Homo sapiens: one gene and its partners. The protein of the gene in region 3 purifies or fractionates together with the protein of the main gene of each other region. This does not show direct contact. Each region holds a gene or a part of one and is shown on either strand. Other genes may lie near its edges.

The links.
Region 1: the proteins of DEFB121 (region 3) and TMEM67 purify together in Homo sapiens (affinity purification with mass spectrometry; 2 studies listed by BioGRID and IntAct, with this or other methods). This does not show direct contact.
Region 2: the proteins of DEFB121 (region 3) and DYNLT2B purify together in Homo sapiens (affinity purification with mass spectrometry; 2 studies listed by BioGRID and IntAct, with this or other methods). This does not show direct contact.
Region 4: the proteins of DEFB121 (region 3) and CPS1 purify together in Homo sapiens (affinity purification with mass spectrometry; 2 studies listed by BioGRID and IntAct, with this or other methods). This does not show direct contact.

Annotation. Positions count from the first base shown.
Region 1 is NC_000008.11:93,757,894-93,764,933, reverse strand, and holds part of TMEM67 (meckelin isoform 1 precursor), read right to left. Parts: intron 6,452-7,040; coding exon 6,358-6,451; intron 5,075-6,357; coding exon of another isoform or gene 4,941-5,074; intron 1,093-4,940; coding exon 993-1,092; intron 1-992. UniProt on the Homo sapiens protein: Required for ciliary structure and function. Part of the tectonic-like complex which is required for tissue-specific ciliogenesis and may regulate ciliary membrane composition.
Region 2 is NC_000003.12:196,290,698-196,294,259, forward strand, and holds the end of DYNLT2B (dynein light chain Tctex-type protein 2B), read right to left. Parts: intron 678-3,562; coding exon 630-677; coding exon of another isoform or gene 607-629; 3' UTR 522-606; downstream 1-521. UniProt on the Homo sapiens protein: Acts as one of several non-catalytic accessory components of the cytoplasmic dynein 2 complex (dynein-2 complex), a motor protein complex that drives the movement of cargos along microtubules within cilia and flagella in concert with the intraflagellar transport (IFT) system.
Region 3 is NC_000020.11:31,404,306-31,411,003, forward strand, and holds DEFB121 (beta-defensin 121 isoform 1 precursor), read right to left. Parts: upstream 1,911-6,698; 5' UTR 1,848-1,910; coding exon 1,790-1,847; intron 781-1,789; coding exon 608-780; 3' UTR 540-607; downstream 1-539. UniProt on the Homo sapiens protein: Has antibacterial activity.
Region 4 is NC_000002.12:210,559,581-210,566,620, reverse strand, and holds part of CPS1 (carbamoyl-phosphate synthase [ammonia], mitochondrial isoform b precursor), read right to left. Parts: intron 1-7,040. UniProt on the Homo sapiens protein: Involved in the urea cycle of ureotelic animals where the enzyme plays an important role in removing excess ammonia from the cell.

The DNA of each region.
Region 1 (7,040 bases), on a different chromosome or scaffold from region 3:
TATTTTAGAAAAATACTTCATATTTTTCATTAATGAATGAGACAGAGGGAGGGAGGGTACTGGTCCAATGAGGACAGTGATGAGTGAATATATGGGTATTCATCACTTGCAAAATAGAGCAGGTAGGAGTCGGGCTGGGGCATGACATAAAACACACTAGGCTTGGGGAAATATTGGGCAAAAAAAATTGGTATTTGGATGCCATAACTCAGGTCAGCCTTAGAGAAAAGATGATCCAACACTAAGTAGCCCTCAGAAAAGCTGCTCAACTATTTTCCATATTAAACTTGGAAACTAAAGAAAAAACTGTGCCCGGAGGGAAGTCATGATGTAGGCCTCTAATAAATTAAAGATGCTGAAATTGGTATAATGTGCTTAAATTAGAGGGAAGTATATAGGCAGGCAGGGGTGTGTGTGTGTGTGTGTGTGTGTTTCACAAATACATGCACAAAGGGGGAACAGGAAGCAACAGAAAATGGGACTATAAATCAGGGTACCTGGGCTATTATTAGCATACATTTATGTTTTTCTATGTAACATTATAATACATAAGGGCTTTAGTACAGTACTTAGCACATAATTATATTACAGATTATATACAAATTATGTAACAACAAACAAAAATAGCTACCCTGTACAGAGTGGTTACTATGTAGCACTATACTAAGAACTGTATCTATTTACTTTATTACTTATTATTTCTGAGCCATTACAGCCTATGAAGTGGGTGGTAACATTACCATTCTAAAGACAAGGGATTGTGAAGTAGTGAGCTATCCAAGGTCAGACAACTAACAGACTGGACCAAAATTTGAACCCTAGTGTGTCTCACGCTCTGGGCCTCAGCTTCTGTATCTGTTAATGTCTACTTCTATCCTTCCTTGGGTTATTGTGAAAACTAAGTGATATGATAGGAAAACACTCTTAAAAGTACAAATTATACACTAATATAAGATGATATTAATGAAGTTAGCCCCCATCACACTGCTTACCTGTCTCCTAAAGCATTTACTACCATAAAAGAGTTTTCATTTCCATCACAGAGCTCACAAGTTGCTTGAGACAACAATGTTCCATTAATGTCTCTTTCCACTGAACAGTTTAGAAACAAAATAAAGATGTAACTCATAGTAAACATATAAGCTTCTACATATTCAGAAAATATTTAACAAAACCCAATTGTAACTATTATTCTATTAATTCTCAAAACACTTTATTTGCATTAAAGGCATAACAAGTATCTCCATAATAAAGTGTAGAGAAGTGATCCCTTCGTACCCGTCCATGCCTCCAAAAAAAAAGAGAAGTGATGCCTTCCCTATTCTCACATAGTAAAATATAGAAAATCATTTTCCAAGTCATCGTAACAATTAAGTCAGTATTTTTTTCCTCAAAAATTTTCTTACCTCTTATCTATACATTTCTGTCACACTAGGATGGGGAAGCAAGTATTTTCATAGATTACTGATAAGTTTCTGCAACTTAGAAGGCTTTTAGTAGTATCTATTAAAGTTTCAAATTCACATCCTTATAACACCACAATTTTGTTTTTAGATACCTAACTTACAGAAACACTTGAACATGTATATAAGGATATTCACTGAGGCATTATTTGTTAGAAACAACACGAATATTTAAAATAGCAGAATGATGGTATATCCATGCTACAAAATACTATGGAATATATTAAAAAGAATCAGGTAAGGCCAGGTGAGGAGGCTTATGCCTGTAATCCCAGCCCTTTGGGAGGCTAAGGTGGGTGGATCACATGAGGCCAGGAGTTCAAGACCAGCCTGGCCAATATGGCAAAACCTTGTCTCTACTAAAAAAAAAAAAATACAAAATTAGCTGGGTGTGGTGGCACGTGCCTGTAATCCCAGCTACTCAAGTGTCTGAGGCATGAGAATCACTTGAACCTGGTAGGTGGAGGTTGCAGTGAGCTGAGATCACACCACTACACTCCAGCCTGGGCAAGAGTGAGACCCTGTTTCAAAAAACAAACAAACAAAAAGAATCAGGTAAATCTAACAGAGCATCAGAGCATACCGTTAACTGAAAAAAGTATGCTAGAACAATATTTGTGTATGAAACATTTATGCAAACATACCACTTATGTTTCCTGTGGCTATATAGTGTAGATCCTTATAATAAAACAGGGAAAAAAAATTCTGAATGTGCACACACAGAGACACACACACCAAAATTAGTACATCATGAAGTGTAATAAATTTCATATTGCCATCCAACTCATAAAACTTTCATTAGTCCCATCCCTAAGAATACACCCCCCAAATACCGTGAGAATCAAGTTAATATTTTCAATGGAGGCAACAGTGCCAATGAAACTACTAAGAAGCTGGGTGCAGTAGATTGCTTAAGCCCAGGAGTTTGAATCCAGCCTGGGTAACATAACAAGACCACGTCTCTGAAAAAATAAGACCAGGCATGGTGGCTCACACCTGTAATCCCAACACATTGAGAGGTCAAGGCAGGAGGACTGCTTGAGGTCAGGAGTTCAAGACCAGCTTGAGATATATAGTAAGACCCCCATCACCACAAAAAAAAAAATTGTTAAAAAGTAAAAAAAAAAAAAGGTAAAGATAATTAAAAAATTAATCTTTGGGTAATATATGAAATATAAAAATAAAAGGCACAAAAGGATTTATTTTATTTTATTTTTTGAGAGAGTTTCGCTCTTGTCATCCAGGCTGGAGCACAGTGGCGTGATCTCACTCACTGTAACCTCCACTTCCCAGATTCAAGTGATTCTCCTGCCTCAGTGTCCCAAGTAGCTGGGACTACAGGCACCTGCCACCATGCCCAGCTAATTTTTCTATTTTTAGTAGAGACAGGGTTTCACCATGTTGGCCAGGGTGGTTTTGAACTTCTAACCTCAGGTGATCCACCCACCTCGGCTTCCCAAAGTGCTGCGATTACAGGCGTGAAACACTGCACCAAGCAAAAAAAGATTTAAAATGAAAATTAAGTCTCTTTCCCACTATTCCCAGGCACTCAGTTCTTCACTCAGGAGGCAGCATTGTTAACAGTTTCTTATGAGTCTTTTCAGAAATAACCTGTGCATATACAAGCACATATGCATATATAATGGTCTTTAAAAAGCTAAATAGTGGAATACCAAGTACATAAAATAGTGCTGATAAATAGCAGGTACTCAATAAACATTTGTAGATGAATGAATAAATTATTCCAAATCTTGCTTTTTTACTCAATATATCTTAGATTTCTTTCCATAGCACTATGTGTAGAACTGCCTCTTTATTTTTCCACAATTGCATTCTATACCATTGTATGACTATATCATAATTTAATTGATTGATCTCATCTTGATAGAATCTTATTTTGTTTATAATCTTTTGTCTTAGGAATAATGTTGCAAGAAAAAAACATTCAACACTTCTTCAGGCATACAGTTAAGTGTATCCAAATGAGAAATTTCTAGATGAGAGCTTTCCAGGCAAAGATAATCTGTATTTTTAATTTTGATAAACACCATAAATTTGCTTTCCACAGAGGTTGCACCAACTTAAAATTTTTCCCATTAATACACGAATAACTATTTCCCTGTATCCTTATAAATACATTGTCAAAGTTGAAAAAGTTTCTTTTTTATTTTGAGATGGAGTTTCACTCTTGTTGCCCAGGCTGGAGTGCAATGGCGTGATCTTGGCTCACTGTAACCTCCACCTCCTTGGGTTCAAGCAATTCTCCTGCCTCAGCCTCCAAGAAACTGGGATTACAGGCATGTGCCACCATGCCAGGCTAATTTTGAGTTTTTAATAGCGACTACATTCGTCAGGCTGGTCTTGAACTCCTGAACTCAGGTGATCCACCTGCCTCGGCCTCCCAAAGTGCTGGATTACAAGCGTGAGCCACTGTGCCCGGTCGAAAAAATTTTATAATAAAATCTGGTAGGTTAAAAATAAAATCTCATTTTAGCTTTAACGTACATTTTCTTACTCTGAGTAAAGTTGAACATTTTTTTCTCACGTTAAAATATTTTTTTCTATGTGAACTTTATTTATGACTCTTGGCTATTTTAAAAATTGGGTTATTCATCTTACTTTTATTTATCTGTAGGAGCTTTACATTTATTGAAGAACTTCGACCTCTGTCTATTGTATGCATTAATATTTTTCTTTAGTTTGTAGTTTGGTTTTTGGTATTATAATTTTTATGGCATTTTATAAATTTACCAATTTTTTCTTCTGTGGTTTTTCTTTTTTTCTTTTTTTTTTGTAGACACAGAGTCTCTCTATATTGCCCAGGCTGGTCAGGAACTCCATGGCTCAAGTAATCGTCCCACCTAGGCCTCCAAAGTGACTGAGTATTTTTGGTCATACTTAGGCCTGTTAAACCAAAACTATACAAATTTTTCCTGCATTTTCTTTAAGAACTTTCATATATTCATATTTAGTATTTGACTCATTTGGAGTTTAATTTTCTCAGAAATAAGGTAGAAACCCAACCTGGGTGTTTTCTCAGTTTTCCCAGCATCATTAATCAGTTTTATCCCCACTTATATGAAATGCCACTTTTTTCACATACCAAATTCCTATATGAATTGAATCTATTCTGATTGCCTGTTTTAAGTTCCATCAATCAGTCTGTGTATCCATAAGCCTGTCATATATGTGATTATAGTAGCTATATAACATGCATATTATCTGATGGGGTAGTTCCTTCTTTCCCTTCCCAGAATTTTCTTAGCTTTTCATATAACTTTCCTGTTAAACTTCAGACTCTATTTGTATATTACCCCAAAACAAACAAATAATATCCTGATAGAATTTATTAGGGTCCTTTAAAATATACAGACTGGTAGAAGAGTTGCATCTTTCTAATATTTAATCTTCCCATCCAAAAATAAAGAATGCATTTTCACTTAAAAGCCTGCCTTCATATCCCTCAGTAATACTCACAAATTTCTTCAATTATGTTGTACATTCCTTCTAAAGTACATGCCAAGGTCAGGTGCGGTGGCTCAAGCCTGTATCCCAGCACTTTGGGAGGCTGAGGCAGGCAGATCACCTGAGGTCGGAAGTTCAAGACCAGCCTGACCAACATGGAGAAACCCTGTTAGCCACTAAAAATATAAAATTAGCCAGGTGTGGTGGCACATGCCTATAATCCCAACTACTCGGGAGGCTGAGGCAGGAGAATCGCTTGAACCTGAGAGGGAGGTTGCAGTGAGCCAAGATCACACCATTGCACTCTAGCCTGGGCAACAACAGTGAAAACTCTGTCTCAAAAAAAAAAAAACAAAAATAAAAATTAAAATTAAAAAAAAGGATATGCCTACTTATTTTTTCTTTTTTGTTGCTACTGTATATGAGGTATTTTCTTCCATCACTGTTTATAATAATTTTTAGTCATTCTGTTGGGTGTTTTAAACATACAATCAAATCATCTGTAAACAATGATATTTTACTTTTTTTTTTTTTTTTTTTCATGAGACAGGGTCTTACCCTGTCGCTCAGGCTGGAGTGCAGTGGCGCCATCTCAGCTCACTGTAGCCTTGACCTTCCAGGCTCAAGCGATCTTCCCACCTTTGCCTCTCGAGTAGCTGGGACTACAGGTGCATGCCACCGTAACCAAATAATTTTTTTTTTTATTTGTAGAGATGCGGTTTCACCATGTTGCCCAGACTGGTCTCAAACTCTTGAGCTCAAGCAATACACCTGCCTTAGCCTTCCAAAGTGCTAGGATTAACAACGGCCTACCTTTTCTTTTCCAATGATAAATATTTTTTTTCTCTTACTTAAGTGCATAGTTTGCATCCTTTTCCAGGTCCTGACATTAACAGGAATGCTTACGCTTTTTCCCTATTAAGTATCAAGTTGGCTTTTGAGTTGAGACATATTTTGTCATGTTATGTTAAGGAAATAACCATCTAATCCTACAATATTAAGAGTTTTAAAAAACTCAGACAAAACTTTGTATTTTCTTCTCAATGCCTGCTGATGTTTTAAGTATCATTAATTTGTACAAAAATAATTTTTATAAACACTATTAAGGGCTGGACACAGTGACTGATGCCTATAATCCCAGCACTTTAGGAGGCTGAGGCAGGAAGATCTCTCGAGGCCAGGAGTTCAAGACCAGGCTGAGCAACATAACGAGACCCAGTCTCTACAAAAAATTTAAAAATTAGCCAGCTGCAGTGGTGTTATGTGTGCAGTCCCAGCTACTCAGGAAGCTGAGGCAGGAGAATTGCTTGAGCCACTGCAAAAATATTAAGTAATCACTTAACTATTTAAATTAGTGCCCTTTTCAAATAAAAACAAAAACAAGAATGAAGATTTATCACTACTTCTTTATAAGGAATCTAATTCTTACCTAAAATATGGCCAATGGGACAGTGACATTTTCCTTCGGCAGTTAAGTCACTAGGGCAAGAAATGCAGTTCCAGCCATCTTCTGTAACACCTTTCTAAATTAAAAGAAAAAAAATGCTTTTCTCTTTTTTAATTAACTTTCTTCTTCTAATCATGTAAGTTCAAAATGCCATAAGAGTATGTAACTACAGTGAATATTCAAATAAATCATACATATATGAGCCACATAAAAATTCCCTGGAGAGATAATTCATGCTTATATTCCAAAATGAAGCTCTATATTATCACTATGTCCTGAAAACTATTAAAGGATTAACTCCGGATAATAGTTCTCTCTTCTTCAGGATCTTTAATTCAAATGGATGCCTCTTTCATAATTATTTGTCATTTCGTTTTTCCATTTACAAATATAAAACACAACACAACACAAAAAGATTGAATCAACGGTCAGTTAATAGGTTAATCTTACCTGTTCTAAAACTCTATTCTAATTTTTAAAAATTCAAATACCTAAAAAATTTAGTCCAGGCACAGTGGCTCACGTCTGTAATTCCAGCACTTTGGGAGGCCAAGGTGGGTGGATCACTTGAGGCCAAAGCTTGAGGCCAGCCTGGCCAATGTGGTGAAACCTCGTCTCTACTAAAAATACAAAAATTAGCTGGGCGTGGTGGTGTATGCCTATAA
Region 2 (3,562 bases), on a different chromosome or scaffold from region 3:
TTGGTTATGTTTGAACAATTGAAATGGCTTTTCCCCTACTTTTTTCTCTGTGTTCCAGTGTAACAAGAATATAGTAGGGCCGGGCGCAGTAGTTCACACCTGTAATCCCAACACTTTGGGAGGCTGAAATGGATGGATCATGAGGTCAGGAGTTTGAGACCAGTCTGGCCAATATGGTGAAACCCCGTCTCTAGTAAAAATACAAAAATTAGCCAAGCGTGGTGGCACTTGCCTGTAGTCCCAGCTACTTGGGAGGCTGAGGCAGAAGAATCACTTGAACCCAAGAGGCGGAGGTTGCAGTGGGCCGAGATTGTGCCACTGCACTCCAGCCTGGGCGACAGAGAGAGACTCTGTCTCAAAAAAAAAAAGAAAGAAAGAGAGAAAGAGAGAGAGAGGGAGAGAGAGAGAGAGACAGAGAGAGAGAGAGGAAGGAAGGAAAGAAAGAAGGAAGGAAAGAAAGAAACAGAACATAGTGTAACAAAATCAAAACATTAAAAATATAAGGCCTAAAACACAACAGATTCAGTTGTCAAACTACTAACATCTTTATTTTGTCAAGATATTTAACAATATTAAAAAGTTCAGATTTCTTCATGGTCATGTCTTTTACCAGCTTTTCAAAGATTCATTCAGTAGTAGAAACAGCCAAATGCTGCTACAACGCAGAATAAACTGTCCTAAAAAATAAATACAACACACACACACATCCAGAATGTTAGTACTAAAGAGGGAATGAGAGCAGCACAGGCAACTGAAACTAACACCATCTCAGATCTTTCCAATTTTTTTTTTCTTTTTTGAGACAGGGTGTCACTCTATCACCCAGGCTGGAGTGCAGTGGTGTGATCTCAGCTCACTGCAGCCTCGACCTCCTACACTCAGGCAATCCTTCTACCTCAGCCTCCAGAGTAGCTAGGACCACAGGTGCCTGCCACCATACCAGGCTAATTTTGTTTATTTTTTGTAAAGATGAGGTCTCACTATGTTGCCCAGGCTGTTCTTGAACTCCTGGGATCAAGCAATCCACCCATGTTGGTCTCCAAAAGTGCTGGGATCATAGGCGTGAGCCACCTCACCCAGCCACCAATTTTCAATCAGGAAGACTTTTTCCTTCTTCAAGAAGTGAAGGGTTTCCAGAGTATAGCTACACTATTGCTTGCCTGAGGGTGACTACAAAATTGCTTGCTAAAAGGTTAGGATGGGTAAAGAATTAGATTTTCTGAATGCAAAAATAAAATGTGAACTAATGAACTTTAGGTAATACATATTCATAAAATAATTATTCACATATTTCCTGATTTATCACAGAAATAATGTATGAAATGCTTTGAGTTTCTTGGAGTAAACTCCATTACTCATCCCAAGAAACCATATTATAAGTATCACTGATAATAAGAACAACAGGACCTTGTCATAAATTCTGGATAAGAGAAATAGTCTCTGGGTGTTTGTTCTTAATTGATAAAATTTACTTGTCCATCTTTTAGTTCAGAATCACAAAATGCTTTCCAGAGCCCAGTCAAATTGCTTAAAACATTTTTAGGCATTTATTACAAGATTTCCACCTGCCTCAGCAACTCCTGCACCACTAACCTCACCTCCAGCCTGGTAATGATGGGATTAAAACAATTCCAACTCAAGTACCTGATGATTAACCAAAAGCAAAATTCTTTGGTTTAGCCCAGCTCCCTGGCTCCTTGGGTGGATAACTCTGAACTGTGTTCTACGACAGTGCTGTGATAAAGGACCTGCTTTGTTTTTAACTTCCGGTCCTTCATGGAAGGATGCTTTTGTAAAATGCAATAAAAATAGGTAACTCAGAACATGAAATGAAAAAAAGGAACATACAAATACAGCCCCAATTTTTTTCTTAGATTCACTGCACAGAAGATTACTTTGTCAAATTGCTGTAAGAGTTTCTAAACCAACCCTTATACTCAGTGTATTGTTTACCTCATCATGGACCTGTAACAAACAGGTCACAGAGCCGTGCTGGTCTGTGCACCCCACTGTGAGTGGCCCTGTTCTACAGCACCACCCAGAGTTCTCCAACAGGACTGAGCCCTGTCATCCAGCAGTTTTCCGCTCAATACCACATGATTTTCCCTCCTTTCTCATTTCCTCTGCCTCTACTAATGTTTCCTGGAATCTCCCAAATAAAGTGCTTTTTTTTTGAGACAGAGTCTTGCCCTCTCGCCCAGGCTGGAGTGCAGTGGCACAATCTTGGCTCACTGCAACCTCCGCCCTCTGGGTTCAAGCAATTCTCCTGCCTCAGCCTCCCAAGTAGCTGGGACTACAGGCGCCCGCCACCTTGCCCGGCTAGTTTTTGTATTTTTAGTAGAGATGGGGTTTCACCATGTTGGCCAGGCTGGTCTTGAACTCCTGACCTCAGGTGATCCACCCGCCTCGGCCTCCCAGAGTGCTGGGATTACAGGCGTGAGCCACCACACCCAGCCTAAAGTTTTTTATTACATATTTGTTCATTTGAGTATTGAGTGGCCCCCACTGGATGTTAATAGGCAGAAACCATGCCTGTCTTATTCATCATTTTGTCCCTAGCCCCTCAGGTGCAGAAGCTGACACATAATAGGAGCTCAGAACTATTTGTTGAATGAATGAATTGTATCATCTAAAGATGCATTTTTTGGCCAGGCCCAGTGGCTCATGCCTGTAATCCCAGCACTTTGGGAGGCCAAAGCAGGCAGATCACCTGAGGTCAGGAGTTGGAGACCAGCCTGACCAAATAGTGAAACCTTGTCTCTACTAAAAAATACAAAAATTAGCCGAGCGTGGTGGCATGCACCTGTAGTCCCAGCTACTCGGGAGGCTGGGGCAGGAGAATTACTTGAACCTGGGAGGCAGAGGTTGCAGTGAGCCGTGATGGCACCACCACTCTCCAGCCTAGGTGACAGAGTGAGACTCCGTCTCAAAACAAACAAACAAGATGCATTTTTTTTTTTTTTTTTGAGACAGAGTCTCGCTCTGTCTCCAGGCTGGAGTACAGTGGCACAATCTCGCCTCACTGCAACCTCTGCCTCCCAGGTTCAAGCAATTCTCCTGCCTCAGCCTCCCGAGTAGCTGGGATTACAGGCACCCAACACCACACCTGGCTAATTTTTGTATTTTTAGTAGAGACGGGGTTTCAGCATGTTGGCCAGGATGGTCTCAATCTCTTGACCTCATGATCCGCCCGCCTCGGCCTCCCAGAGTGCTGGGATTACAGGCATGAGCCACCGTGCCTGGCAAAAAAAACCATCTTCTTAGCTTGACTATTCCCCCAAAGATAGCTGATAAATTAAGATTTACATAGTACTTCCCACTGTCCAGCCCCTGATCCCTAGGGTAGTTAAGCATAAAATAAAACTTTGGTGGGGCTGGGCGCAGTGGCTCACGCCTATAATCCCAGAACTCTGGGAGGCCGAGGCGGGCCGATCACCTGAGGTCGGGAGCTCCAGACCAACCTAACCGACATGGAGAAACCCTGTCTCTACTAAAATTACAAAATTAGCCAGGTGTGGTGGTGCATGCCTGTAATCCCAGCTACTCGGAAGGCTGAGGCAGG
Region 3 (6,698 bases):
CATCATACTTGCCTCCTGGACTCCCCTAAAATACTCATAGATTGAGACCCACAGCATGCCTCAGCCTAGACTCTAAAGCCATTGCTATACAATACAATCACCACTAGCCACATTTAGCTATATAAATTTAAAGCTCGATTGAATCAAATTAAAACTTCGGGTCCGCATTCACACTGGGCACATTTCAAGTGCTCAGTAGCCACATGTGGCTAGTAGCTACCATATTGAACAACATAGACAGGAAATATTTCCATCATGGCAGAATGTTCTATTGGCAGTGCTGGTCTAGAAGAAAACAGGAATCAAGTAGATATAATGAATATTCTTTAATTCATGCCCTCTTGGACCAGCTATGGGTCAGCAGGCTAGGAGCTATTTGCAAGGTTTAGATTGTTACCACCTACTGGTCCATCCTGTTCTTCCTAACATGCACACCGGACACACACACACACACACACACACACACGCACACAACCTTTCTTCTTTATTTACTTGTTTCTAAATGTAACTAGGTGGAACTATCAGACAGAAACAGGGTGTTGCCAAGAATGATTTAATAGAACTGCAGGATCCCATGATGTTGAGACTCAAGGTTGGAAGAGAGGTGTCAGACTGCAGAAGTTGATTCCAGGCTTGTATTTGTGTCTGTTAATTTTGGTTTTACAGGTACATACTTGGGATCCACACAGCACTTAGCCTCAGTTTTGCATAATATATAGTATACTTCACTTTCTTTACATGTTGTTCTGCACCTGCCTGACTTGCCCCAACATTTCATGACTGAAAACAAAAGGGAAGAAGAGAATAGAGTCAGTTTTGAAAGAAAGCAGAAAGGTGTGAAAGGAAGAGGCTAAAGCCCAGTAGAGGAGTAGGAGGGAAATGAGGAGGTCTGTGGGGAAGAAGCTCTTACACAGGATCCCCTAAGTTTAAGGGAGATTATAGACCACTACGCTTTCTTCCTTCACTTGTGCCCCCTGTTAGAACCCCCAGAGTCCCCCCAACTCAGTGGCATAGGACCTACTGGATAGCTTCCCCTCCTTGGCCAGCTCCTTGGGAGGGGGAAGAGGACCCCTCTCCCAAGGGTTTTATCTCCCCCATATTATAATGTACCCAGGTGCCCAGTAGCAATTAGCCACCTTTTCTCATTGTTCTTTGGTACCCCCTCTGACCATATCAATGAAAGGTGACAGGAATATTAAATAAACTCATTTAACATCTGTAAGTCTTCTAGGGCACCTTTAAAACTCCCAAGAATATCATACTGCCTTCTTCACAACATCCTGGGACTTTTCTCTGGCCCCAACCAGTCAAGGGAATTAGGAACAGCTATTCCAGGGAACCTACAACCTAAGGTAACCCAGATGATTTGAGGTTGCATTAAAAAGTGGAATCAGAATCCTCAAACAATCAGAAATTTGAGAACCATTTTCCTAGAGGCAACAATGCATCAAAATTCAAATCCTTTCAATGAATGTTTTTGAAAAAGTCCCCATTTTCTCTATACTCCATACCCAAGTCTCTCTCTTTACACCCTATCCCATCCTCAGGTCATCACGTTCAGCTTTTCCAGAGCTAACCAGAGATAAGGTTGGAATGGTCAAGTACTGGGCACTGGGAAGACCATTTGGTACCAGAGAACTCAAACTTCCCCATAACTAGAGAGACTACCTAAAGGCCTCAATGAGCTCTACCAGGCCATTCTCCCAGCCCAACCTGTCAGAGTCCCCAGAGTTCTCTGAACATGCATCAGGTTTCCTGACTCCCATCCCCTTCTGGAGATCCTGTTTACCTGGGGTGACCTGGGCCAGGAGCAGAGTAACAGTCAAAAGCAGAAGAAGGAGCTTCATGAATGATGAATGATCAGGGAGGGATAGGAGGCTTCTCAACTGGTAAAACAGACAGAGGACTCCATTCTGGGCAGTCCAGACTGGTATTTATTGCCTTGAGGAGCATGGCAGAGCCAAGATCAGTGAACCAGAACGGGAACAGTCATTTGAGATCAGACAGGCAGGCAAGGAAGGTATCAACCACACTGCCTGAGGAGGCTGGGAGAGGGGGAAGGGACGTTAACAAAGAGAAGATACGGCCTTGCCTCTGAAGAATTTTATAATACAGCTGGAGAACCAAGAAGGGGAAAAATATTTTCATCTCTAATTTGTTTTTCATTAATGAGAAAAAAAGAGAGAGAAAAAGAGATAAGACAGAAAAGGAGTGATACTTCTCTGCGCCTTGGGTTCTTCCCAGCAACAAGGACATCTTAGGATGTCCCATATGTTGATGATTCATTATAATACCAAATGAAGGGCAGAGCAGGGGAAAATACCTTAATAGCTCCATGGCCATCACCACTGGAAACCAGAATGTCAGTATTCATGGAGTGGAATGAGCAGGAAAGCCATAGCCCTTACTTTTAACAGTACATATTTAATAGGAACAAGTAGCACCCTCATAGGTAGCAAAAGAAAAGCCATTTATTATTGTTGTGGTCTTTTTTTTATTATTACTTATTTTTTTGAGACAGTCTTGTTCTGTCACCCAGGCTGGAGTGCAGTGGCACAATCATAGCTCACTGGAACCTCGAATTCCTGGTCTCAAGCAATTCTCCTGCTTTGGCCTCCCAAAGTGCTAGGATTAAAGGCATGAGCCATCATGCCCAGCTTGGTCTTTCTTATAAGAAATGGTAGATTGCCCCAGCAACTTGGGAGGCCGAGGCAGGCGGATCACAAGTTCAGGAGATCGAGACCATCCTGGCTAACTCAGTGAAACCCCGTCTCTACAAAAAAAAATACAAAAAATTAGCCGGGCGTGGTGGCTGGCCACTGTAGTCCCAGCTATTCAGGAGGCTGAAGCAGGAGACTAGCTTGAATCCGGGAGGCGGAGGTTGCAGTGAGCCGAGATTGTGCCACTGCACTCCAGCCTGGGCAACAGAGCGAGACTCTGTCTCAAAAAAGAAAGAAAGAAATGGTAGATTGTAATCTTGGCCCTACTTCTTCATCCCTACTTGAATTCACACATTTGCCAAGGTCTCATCCTAGGAGAACTCTATTTCATTTTCCCTTCACTTTGGCCTTGGCATGTGATTTGCTTTGGCTAGTGATATGTGGGCAGAAGTGACGGTGTGCCGGTTGTAAGCCTAGGTTTTAAGAGATGATGAATATTTTCATTTGCCCTTCTGTGTCTCTGCCATCACTATGAGAAGAACATGCCCCAGTGGTCCAAGGAGGATGAGAGATACGTGGGGCACAGCTACTCCAGGCGACTCACAGATCTACAGTGAGAAACAGAGCTGCCCCAGGCATTCCAGCCTCAAGCAGGGCAATCTAGCCAAATATAAAGGATTGATGTTTTAAGCCACTGAGTTTTGGAGTGGAACATTACATAGTAATGGCTAACTTATACACAAGGCCAGCAGATAGATCAGGAAAGAGCCAAGTGCTTTTTAGGACAATAATGGTAAGGTCTATCTTTCTTTTCTTTTTCTTTTTTCTTTAAGACAGAGTCTTGCTCTGTTGCCCAGGCTGGAGTGCCGTGGCACCATCTCAGCTCATTGCAACCTCTGCCCCCCGGGTTCAAGCAGTTCTCCTGCCTTAGCCCCCCGAGTAGCTAGGACTACAGGCACGCGCCACCACACCCAGCTAATTTTTGTATTTTTGGTAGAGACGAGGTTTCACCATGTTGGCCATGGCTTGTCTCAAACTCCTGACCTCAGGTGATCCACCCGCCTCAGCCTCCCAAAGTGCTGGGATTACAGGCGTGAGCCACTGCACCTGGCCTAGGTCTATCATTTCAAAATGGACAGAAATAAAGACATACTAATAAGAGGAATATCTTCTTTCTAACATGGAAGAAAACAACAAGCCAGGAGCAGAGGCTCCTGCCTGTAATCCCCACAATTCGGGAGGCTAAGGCAGGAGGATTGCTTGAAGCCAAGAGTTTGAAACCAGCCTCAGCAACATAACGAGACTCCATCTCTACACACACACAAAAAAAGTTTTAAATAGCCGGGCATGGTGGGGCAAAGCTGTAGTCCTACCTACTAGGGAGGCTGAGGCAGGAAAATCATTTGAGCCCAGGAGGTCGAAGCTACAATGAGCTAAAATTGCACCACTGCACTCCAGCCAGCTCAACAGAGACCCTGTCTCCAAAAACAAAAAAAAGACAAGATAAATTTTCTTGTTGTCTGAAGAAAAATTAATGCTCCGGAGGTCACTTTTTCTATAAAGCCCAGATGGTAAATACTTTAGGATTTGCCAGCCACAACTATCACAACTACTCAACTCTACAGCTATAGGACAAAATTACCCACAGACAATATATAAGCAAATGAGTGTGGCTGTATTCCAATAAAACTTATTTATAGACACTCAAGTTTAAATTTTGTATAATTTTCACATCTCTAAATGAAATTTGATTGTTTTCAACGATTTAAAAATGTACTGGCTGGGCATGGTGGCTCACGCCTGTAATTCCAGCACTTTGGGAGACTGAGACAGGTGAATCACCTGAAGCCAGGAATTCGAGACCAGCCTGGCCAACATGGTGAAACCTCGTCTCTACTAAAAATACAAAAATTAGCCATGTGGGGTGGTGAGCAACTGTAACCCCAGCTACTCGGGAGGTTGAGGCAGGAGAATTGTTTGAACCTGGGAGGCAGAGGTTGCAGTGAGCCGAGATGGTGCCATTGCACTCCAGCCTGAACAACAGGAGTGAAACTACATCTCAAAAAAAAAAAATGTACCAAGGCAAACAGATCACTTGAGGCCAGGAGTTTGAGACCAGCCTGGATGACATAGCAAGGTCCCTTCTCTATTTTAAAAAAACTTGTTAAAAAAATAAAATAAACAAAATTATTGCTGATTTTCTTGGTATCTCCACTTTGGAAAAACAGTTTAACAGTTTCTTATAAAGTTAAACATAAACTTATCATACAACCAAACAACTCCTCTCTTTGGTATTTATCAAAGATAAATGAAGACATATGTCCACGTCAAAACTTGAATTGTCATAGTAACTTTATTCACCATAAGTGAAAACAACCCAAAAGTCCATTAATTAGTAAACAGATAAATTCTGATATCTCCATGTAATAGAATACTATTCAGCAACAAAGAATTAACCACTGCTATGCAACATACGGATGAACCTAAAGAGCAAGCTGGGTGTGGTGGTTCACGCCTGTAATCCCAGCACTTTGAGAGGCCAAGGTGGGTGGATCATCTGAGGTCAGGAGTTCGAGACTAGCCTGGCCAACATGGTGAAACCCTGTCTCTACCAAAAATAACAAAATTAGCCAGACATGGTGGCGGGTGCCTGTAATCCCAGCTACTTGGTAGGCTGAGGCAGGAGAATTGCTTGAACCCGGGAGGCGGAGGTTGCAGTGAACCTGAGCCAAGATCATGCCACTGCACTCCAGCCTGGACAACAAGAGCGAAACACTGTCTCAAAAGAATAATAATAAAAATAATAATAAACATTTTTTAAAAGCATTAGCCTGAGTGGAAAAATCCAGACCAAAGAAGAACATACTGAACAAGCTTATTCACATGAAACTCTAGAAAACACAAACCTAATCTACAGTGACAAAAAACAGATCAGTGGTTGCCTGGGGCTGATGGGAGGAAGTGGGCATTGACTGAGATGGGGCATGAGGGAACTTTCAGAGTGATGAAAATGTTCTATATGCAGATGTCAAAATTCATCAAAATTTACACATTATGTTTTATATAAATTATACCTCAAAAAAGTTGACTTTAAAAAAAACCTGTGCAAATAGTTTTTAAAATAAGCAACAGAATCCGATAAATAACATAAAACCACTTAAAATATATACACATTTAATGTGGTACACATATACCATGGAATACTATGCAGCCATCAAAAAGAAGGAAATCACATCCTTTGCAGCAACATGGATGCAGCTGGAGGTCATTATCCTAAGCCAACTGATGCAGAAACAGAAAACCAAATACCACATGTCCTCACTTACAAGTTGGAGACAAACCTTGGGTACATGTGAACATAAAGAGGGGAACCATAGACACTGGGGACTACTAGAGTCAGGAGAGAGGGAGGGAGGCAAGGGCTGAAAAACTACCTATTATATACTATGCTCACTACCTGGGTGACAAGATACATCATAGGAGTTAAACATCATAGGAGTTGCCTATGTGAGAGATGGATAGGAGTTGATTATGGGGATAAAAGTTAATAAATCAGTAAAATAAAATAAGAGAAGGGCTTTGTATAAGGCCAATGACAATAAATCTGCCATAAATACATAACCCTCTGCAACAGAGGACTAAAATAAAGTGCTATATTGACAAGGGGCTTACTTCTAAAGATCATTAGTAAGGTATCAGCCCCGTGGACTGGAACCCATTTCCTCTCCTTCCAGAAGGGACTGCAGAGAGGAAACCTGAGATGCCATTCAAGCAAACGGCACAACTTCCTCCACTCTTGAGAAAGGGGATTGTTTCTGGTTAGAAGGGTAGGATACTGGGCTGAGAGCCTTGAAAAATGAGAGAGAGAGAGAGAGAGAGAGAGAGAGAGAAAGAGAGCAACTCATGGGAGCACCATCCTTGCAGAAGTCTTAGTCTAGAAGGTACTTTCTTTATGCATCCAAGGAACCCCCAGTGGCACAGAGTTTCATCTACACTGAATGGTTTTGAGATCTACTTCCCTTCTTTAAAGAACTCCAT
Region 4 (7,040 bases), on a different chromosome or scaffold from region 3:
TCTAAGCTTACTTTTATTTCTGCTTTCCAATTTCGTAAGTGAGGATTAAAAGAAATTTAAGCATGAACTCTATTTAAATTTATTTATAAGAGCCTTAATTCAAAATTGCCATGGATAAGCCACAACAGGCCCAGGTCAACCAAGAACTACCTATCTATAAATCTGTAAATTGTCAAAGTGAAATGTCAAGTCATGAATTACCTGAGTCATTATAATCTGAGGAGAATCAGCAGGTTTCGAGAACAATTTGCACTGATCCTAGGCCCTTGAGTTCTCAAGCACTGAAGATTGTTGGAACCCTAGATGCTGTGATGAATAAGGAGATCCACCTCTCAGTCCCCCCTCCCTTTTCCCCAGTGATGGAGGATTCAATTTCTAGATAACATAGATAATTATTCATATTAATAATGGAAAAACTTGCTGCCCTGCTGTGAGGAGTGAGGTCAGCAAACCATCTCCTGCTGTCAAATTTTTCAGGGTCTATCTCAGCTGTAGAGGGCTGCATTGCCCCATGACTTTCTTGGAATACCCCATGACCAGTGTCTAAGTTAGGCCTGGATAGAAAGGTTCAGGCCACATCCAGGAAAGTCTGGTGGGCAGCAGCTTCCTATCCCGTTGGCCAAGGCTTTATCAAAACTGCATTACAGTTTAGTTCTCTGTCCAGTTCTACTTCCTGAAGCTTCACAGATGCTGATCCCTAATAGAGAGCATGCTCCCCAAACATCATCTCAGCATTTGTTTACAGAGAACCTAAGTCATGCTAGGCACTTAAACCAAATGATCAGTCAAAGTCCTTATGCCAAAGTTAATGTTACTTCCAAGTTGCCTGATGTTCAAGAGTGGAGTCCACATGTGAACATTCACTTTATTTGAACAACCAAGCACAAGTTTAGCATGCAACTGCCTAAAATAAAATTCATACAGAGAGAGAGATTTTTCTGTACTTTCTAAAAATCTCATGTTTTTATGAGATTTTGTTTGAATCTCATAAAACAAAGAAATACGTTTAAACTTTTGAACCAATATGTTTAAATTGTGGCTGCAATTATTAACATTATTTCCATCTTTTTGAAATTATGTTTGTATGTTTTTCTTCTCCCACCTATGTAATTATATTCATAAAACATGTAAACATACTCCAAAGAAATAGGCCAAGGATTGTAGCTAATATGGATATCAAGAAAAATGCCTTAAGGTTACTTTCCACTAACAGTTTGGCATTTTTTAGTCTGGAGCCTACACGTATTGTGAATCTGGGAGCCAATCAGGTTATAAAATAAGCGGTGAAAAATTGTGTTCTCTTGTTACTTCATATAAATTTAAAAATTAAAGATTAAATTACTAGTCTCTACGGCCTAGTAATACTAAATGTTTCCTTTGTTAGAAAATTTATTGGAGGAAGATTCATAAGACTGCAGATTTTTTCACACACAATATTTAGAAGGACTAAAACGGAATTTTCCTATGTATATGTAATTGCTCCATGTTTAATCTTACTTTATAATTTTATTTAGTACTCCTATTTCTAAATTAAACTGAATTACAAAAATAGCTATATGATCTCCATTCTCATATTACTTTTATTTTTTATTTATTTATTTATTTTTATTTTTATTTATTTATTTTTTGAGATGAAATCTCTCTGTCGACCAAGCTGGAGTGCAGTGGCATGATCTTGGCTCACTGCAACCTCTGCCTCCTAGGTTCAAGCAATTCTCCTGTTTCAGCCTCCCGAGTAGCTGAGATTACAGGCACTTTGCGCCACCACACCCAGCTAATTTTGTATTTTTAGTAGAGATGGGGTTTCACCATGTTGGCCATGCTGGTCTCAAACTCCTGACCTCAAGAGATCTGCCTGCTTTGGCTTTCCAAAGTGCTGGAATTACAGGTGTGAGCCACCAAGTCCGGCCCCCATTCCTATATTACTTTTAAAATGAGCATTCTAGGCCGGGCGCGGTGGCTCACGCCTGTAATCCCAGCACTTTGGGAGGCCGAGGCGGGCGGATCACAAGGTCAGGAGATCGAGACCATCCTGGCTAACACGGTGAAACCCCGTCTCTACTAAAAATACAAAAAAATTAGCCAGGCGTGGTGGCAGGCACCTGTAGTCCCAGCTACTCGGGAGGCTGAGGCAGGAGAATGGCGTGAACCCCGGAGGCGGACCTTGCAGTGAGCCGAGATCGCAGCACTGCACTCCAGCCTGGGCGACAGAGCGAGACTCCATCTCAAAAAAAAAAAAATCATTGTTAACTAAATTTAATGTTGCAATTCTTAATATTTGTAAAGTCTGAGATTTCTTTCACAGGTTATAAGTAATTTTTAATGAAAATACATTTTTGTGAGGGGGGGTTACATATAAGTAGAAATTCCAATAAACTCTCAATTGTTTTGGTTTGTCTGCCGTGGATGTTGATATTATTGTTTCACCATTGTCAAACAATATTTCAATGTTCTAATGATGTTACAAGATAGAATACTGCAAGCTCTGAAATTTCTCTAAAAATCTCATCTCTTTTAGGGGTTTTAAATTTTCCTCACAATTAAAATTCATTGTAAGCCTACATTTATGGATATATTTTCATTTCTTAGTAAGATGATTCATAAACTTTATGGGACCACAAATAAGTGACTGCAATTTTACCCTTTAATACTCAGTCTGAGATTCAGTTTAAAAGGGTAGATGTTTCAAAGTGTTTTCCAGAATCAGAATAATGCAACAGCTATTAATGAGAGTCACACAGCTACATTCCCCTTGAAAAAGGTTTGAGCATCTGTCCCTGGTGCTATGCTAAACTGATTGAGAGGGCTTAGTCTTAGGAAGTAACAGTCAAAATTCAAACATAATTTGTAATTTAATCTATAAAAGTTTTTGAAGCAGCCTAGTGTTTATCATTATTGTTAGGTTCTCCTTTGCATTCAGTATTATGTTATTAAAAATCATCTACTCATTGCTCATGTATTGTTTCACAACCCATCAGCATTCTGAACTAATTCTAAGGACATCGATCCTTTACTTCGAACCAGTTTTCTTCGGGTCTTTTATATCAAGATGGAAAACAAGTCAAAATGAGACTTTTCTTGCAGCCTAAAATTGCATTAGGCTTTTGTATATGTGGAGCTTACAGGACTATAAGAGGAAGAAACACATTGAAACTGAAAAACAGCATGTTTTGTTACAAACACATGACAATATTTAGGTTGAAATGGAAGAAATACGTCAACTGTAAACAGCATTGCCCTAAAATGTCCTATTTATATAATTGTTGACAGCCATATAAAGCAAGAATCCTTCCTTATGCTTTGATTTAAACAACCTATTCTCAAAAAAAGAAAAGGAAAAATCAAATTTGTGTCGTATTGCCATAACATTCAGTATGTAAATGAGCCCTTGAGTAAGCAATAAAATAACAGCAGAAGAAATGACTTAGAACATTCTGAAGCCAGGTTAAACACAACTATGGCATCGGGTATATAAGTACAATAACAAAACTTCAAATTAAAAAGATCCATCTGTTGTTTGAAGCCTAATTAAAATTCTAACCAAATTTGCTAATGTATATTTTGTTTTACGTACAAAAACAGGCATCCATGTGTCCTTGTTTTAACTTCAGCACTTACATATCTGTGAAATGGGAGGAACAGAAATGTTTCTTCTCCTAGATATGAGACTCCACCACTAAAATGTTCTGCCTGTAAAGCCTTAAGCTAATTCAGCAATAGATTCCATAAAAGGTTTGAAAAAAAAAAAAAAACACCATTTAAAAGTCAGTAATTCCCTTGAGCTAGTAGTAAAAATGAAAATAATTTACTCTGGGATTATGGTATTGCTGTTGAATCATTTATCTACGTAAACTATTTGCACTTCAGAAAAAGTAGAGGCCCCACATGTTTTTTTTCCATTTTCACCAAGGCCTAAGGCTATATAACATACGTGCTTTCTGGCTTACCTGATGTTTCTAAGCTATTAGTTCGCCTCAGTACTCATCCTCTTAAAAAATAAATCTGAACTAAGCACTGAAAAGTAGAAAGCCTAAAGCCAGAATTTATTTCAGGTAATTATTGTGTAGATAATATGGTAAAAAGTTAAAATCAAGTAAATGAAATCTTATTCTTTTATTCTTGGAATTACACTATTAAGATATGGATTTTTGAAATTTAGAATTTCAGCACAATTTGTCTTTGAAATATTTCATGAGACTTCTCTGCAGTTACAAGGCCTAACACTTCAAAATTCTGAAGCACTGTAACAGCAGTAATCAATTAGGCCTTACCACATTCTCAGTTAATAATCTTACAACATTCCAAGTTAATATTAAGTCATCGGTCTTTGGTTAAACATAAGCCAATGTTAAGGGGACAAAATCAAAAGGTTAATTTACTTAAGTACTTTTATGTTTGAACATTTATAAACAAAAGATTAAGATTTATGAATCATTTTTATTCTAATAAGGTTTCTCATTGTAAATAAAATACAGCATTTATAAAAATTTCATTACAAAGTATGTTCATAAAGTGTAGGTTTATTAATATGCCTTACTGAGCATCTGCTATGTGGCAAGTTGTTCAGAATCCTGGAGGAACCTACATATCATAAGCTAATTTTTACTGTATGGTGGTGATAAATTAAAATGGTCTTATATTTCAGTCTGCATTATAGAAGAAACTTAGTAAAATTCTTTCATAATGTAGCAACCCTATTGATTCATTTATGAGAACTTCAAATTAGTCAGTTACCTCCCTATGAAATTTAAAAGATCAATGTATAGCATTTAACAAGTTGAAAAAAATAAAAAGCAAACAGAGTAGCCTTGAAAATATTTTTATAAGTTCAACTCATTTAGATCACATGAAGAAAATCAAATGGAAGCTAAAGATCCCTAGGGCTAAGGAGCCTAACACAAACTTTGACCTTGGCCCGCGCAGCTTTTTTCGGGCCTCCGTCATTGCAAATGCCCCAGGAAATACAAATCCCATCAAGGGCAGTCAGCGTAGCATACCAAACTCCTCCTGAAGGCTTGAAGTGAATTCTAGCATGCCCATTGCCTAAGAGATACTGAAAACTTTCTACAGCACCCCTCAATTTTTGGAACAGGTTGGAAATATGAAGAAAGTCTAATACAGATGTAAAGGCAGAGGAATAGTCTCCATTTCCATAGCAATAAGACCTAATGTCACCTCTAGATCGTCAGAAAGTCTGGCTAGACATGAGCAAATTGGAATGAGGGAGAGGAAAGCACAGGTCAAGATTAGTACTAGTCCCTTGGGCAGTTCTACAGCCAGAATGCTTAGCTTCTGACCCAAAGCTGGGACTAGGGTACTGAGTGATGTGCTTAGGGCCTAACTCTCAAAGAGATACACCATGACACTAACAGTGACAGCCTCCTTAAATTTTGCATCTCAGGTACCTCACTCACTTAACCTAGTCTAGGACATTTAAACTATAGTTTTTTCAAGAGTTTTATGTCAAGAAGCTCATAATGTCAAGGCGTTGTTGGTGACTAATAAATGAATCTATATTTTAGAAAATTGGGGATATAAAAAATGGAAAAAATTAAAATGTTCAAAAGAAAGGCCATCTCCCAATTAGAGAAGTATTGCATGCCAAAAGTATGTAAAGTTGTCCATCAGGCAAACTAATTCTGCAACAGCTCATTTGGGACTGAACACAATTAATATTTCAAAAATGTAGTTTGCCATAGATGAAATCCGTCCTAAAATGTGTCTATATGTAGTAAAAGTCCAATAAAATAGTTATTCTTAAAAGTGTGTGATAACCCCATCCCCACTCTTACATCTAACGTGTACAGAGGCTCCAATATGATAATGAGTTATATTTCCTGTGACTATCTTTAAAGCTACTACAATGTAAGTAAATTATTCTAATTGTAGGAGTTTTTATAGTTGCCAATTTCTAATCAAATGACAATAGCTCCTCAAGACGGAACTAAATAGATACTTCTATGTGAAAATCAGAATATAAAATCTTAAAAATGAATGCCTTTCAAAAGAAATAATGACTACCAGTGCTCATTCGTAGCTGAAGTATCAGAGAGGACACTTGGATTGTTAGGTTCCTAGCTTAATTATAACACAGGTCACCATTGTTAAAAAATGAGTGGATTAATGTTAGAAGGAGTACTTATTGAACACTTTTCTATTCATAGGGAACTTAAGCTTTACAATTTAATACTTTTGATTTCCAAATTCATTTGCAAGTAAAAATAAAACTATTTAGCTTTGATGACTTTCCCAGACTTGTGAACTCAGAATTCTGAAGTCTGTAAGTTTCTTGAAATCAGAGACTATACTCTTATGATCCACTTATTTCTATTTATCATTCTTCCTGTATACTCCCATGGTAGAGGTTCCGTGTTTATTAAAGAATAAATGAATGAATGAATGAAATAGGTTATTATGGTGTCTATTCTGCCTTTTGGAATTAAATTTGCCATACTGAAAAAAAAAGATTATTTGCTTCATTTTCCTTGAGTCTGATTTATTATAAGAAATATCTTCTTAGAGATGTTTAATATTAAGGCAAAGGTGAACAAATCATTATTATAAATATTTGAGAATTCTTATCAAATACCTTGTCATTGCAACAACTTGTAGTCCATAAAAAACATAAGGACTCTTTGATCTAACCCTCTACTAAGTCCTTCTACTAAAATGTATAGAATGGAATTTTTTTTTAAATATCCAGTTTTTGCTTTAAAATGTTCAGTTTAATGGTTTAAATTTAAAACTTTAAAGATTTTTGAGAATTGTTCATGTGTGACAATCACATAATTTGTCAAGTAAATCAGTCATCATTTGCACTATACAGATGACAAAACTTAGGTTCAGAGAATATGTGACTTGTCCAAGAACAGGGCATTAGGAAATGCATAACAGGGGTTAGATTCCAGATCTTTTTGTGCCCAATCCAGAGTATATCCCACTATTACACTGTTACAGCCTGCTGAATGTAATAATGAGTGCTGAACATTTTCAGTACTAATGGAAAAAGATTATGGTATCTAAAACTTTTTAGTATTTAG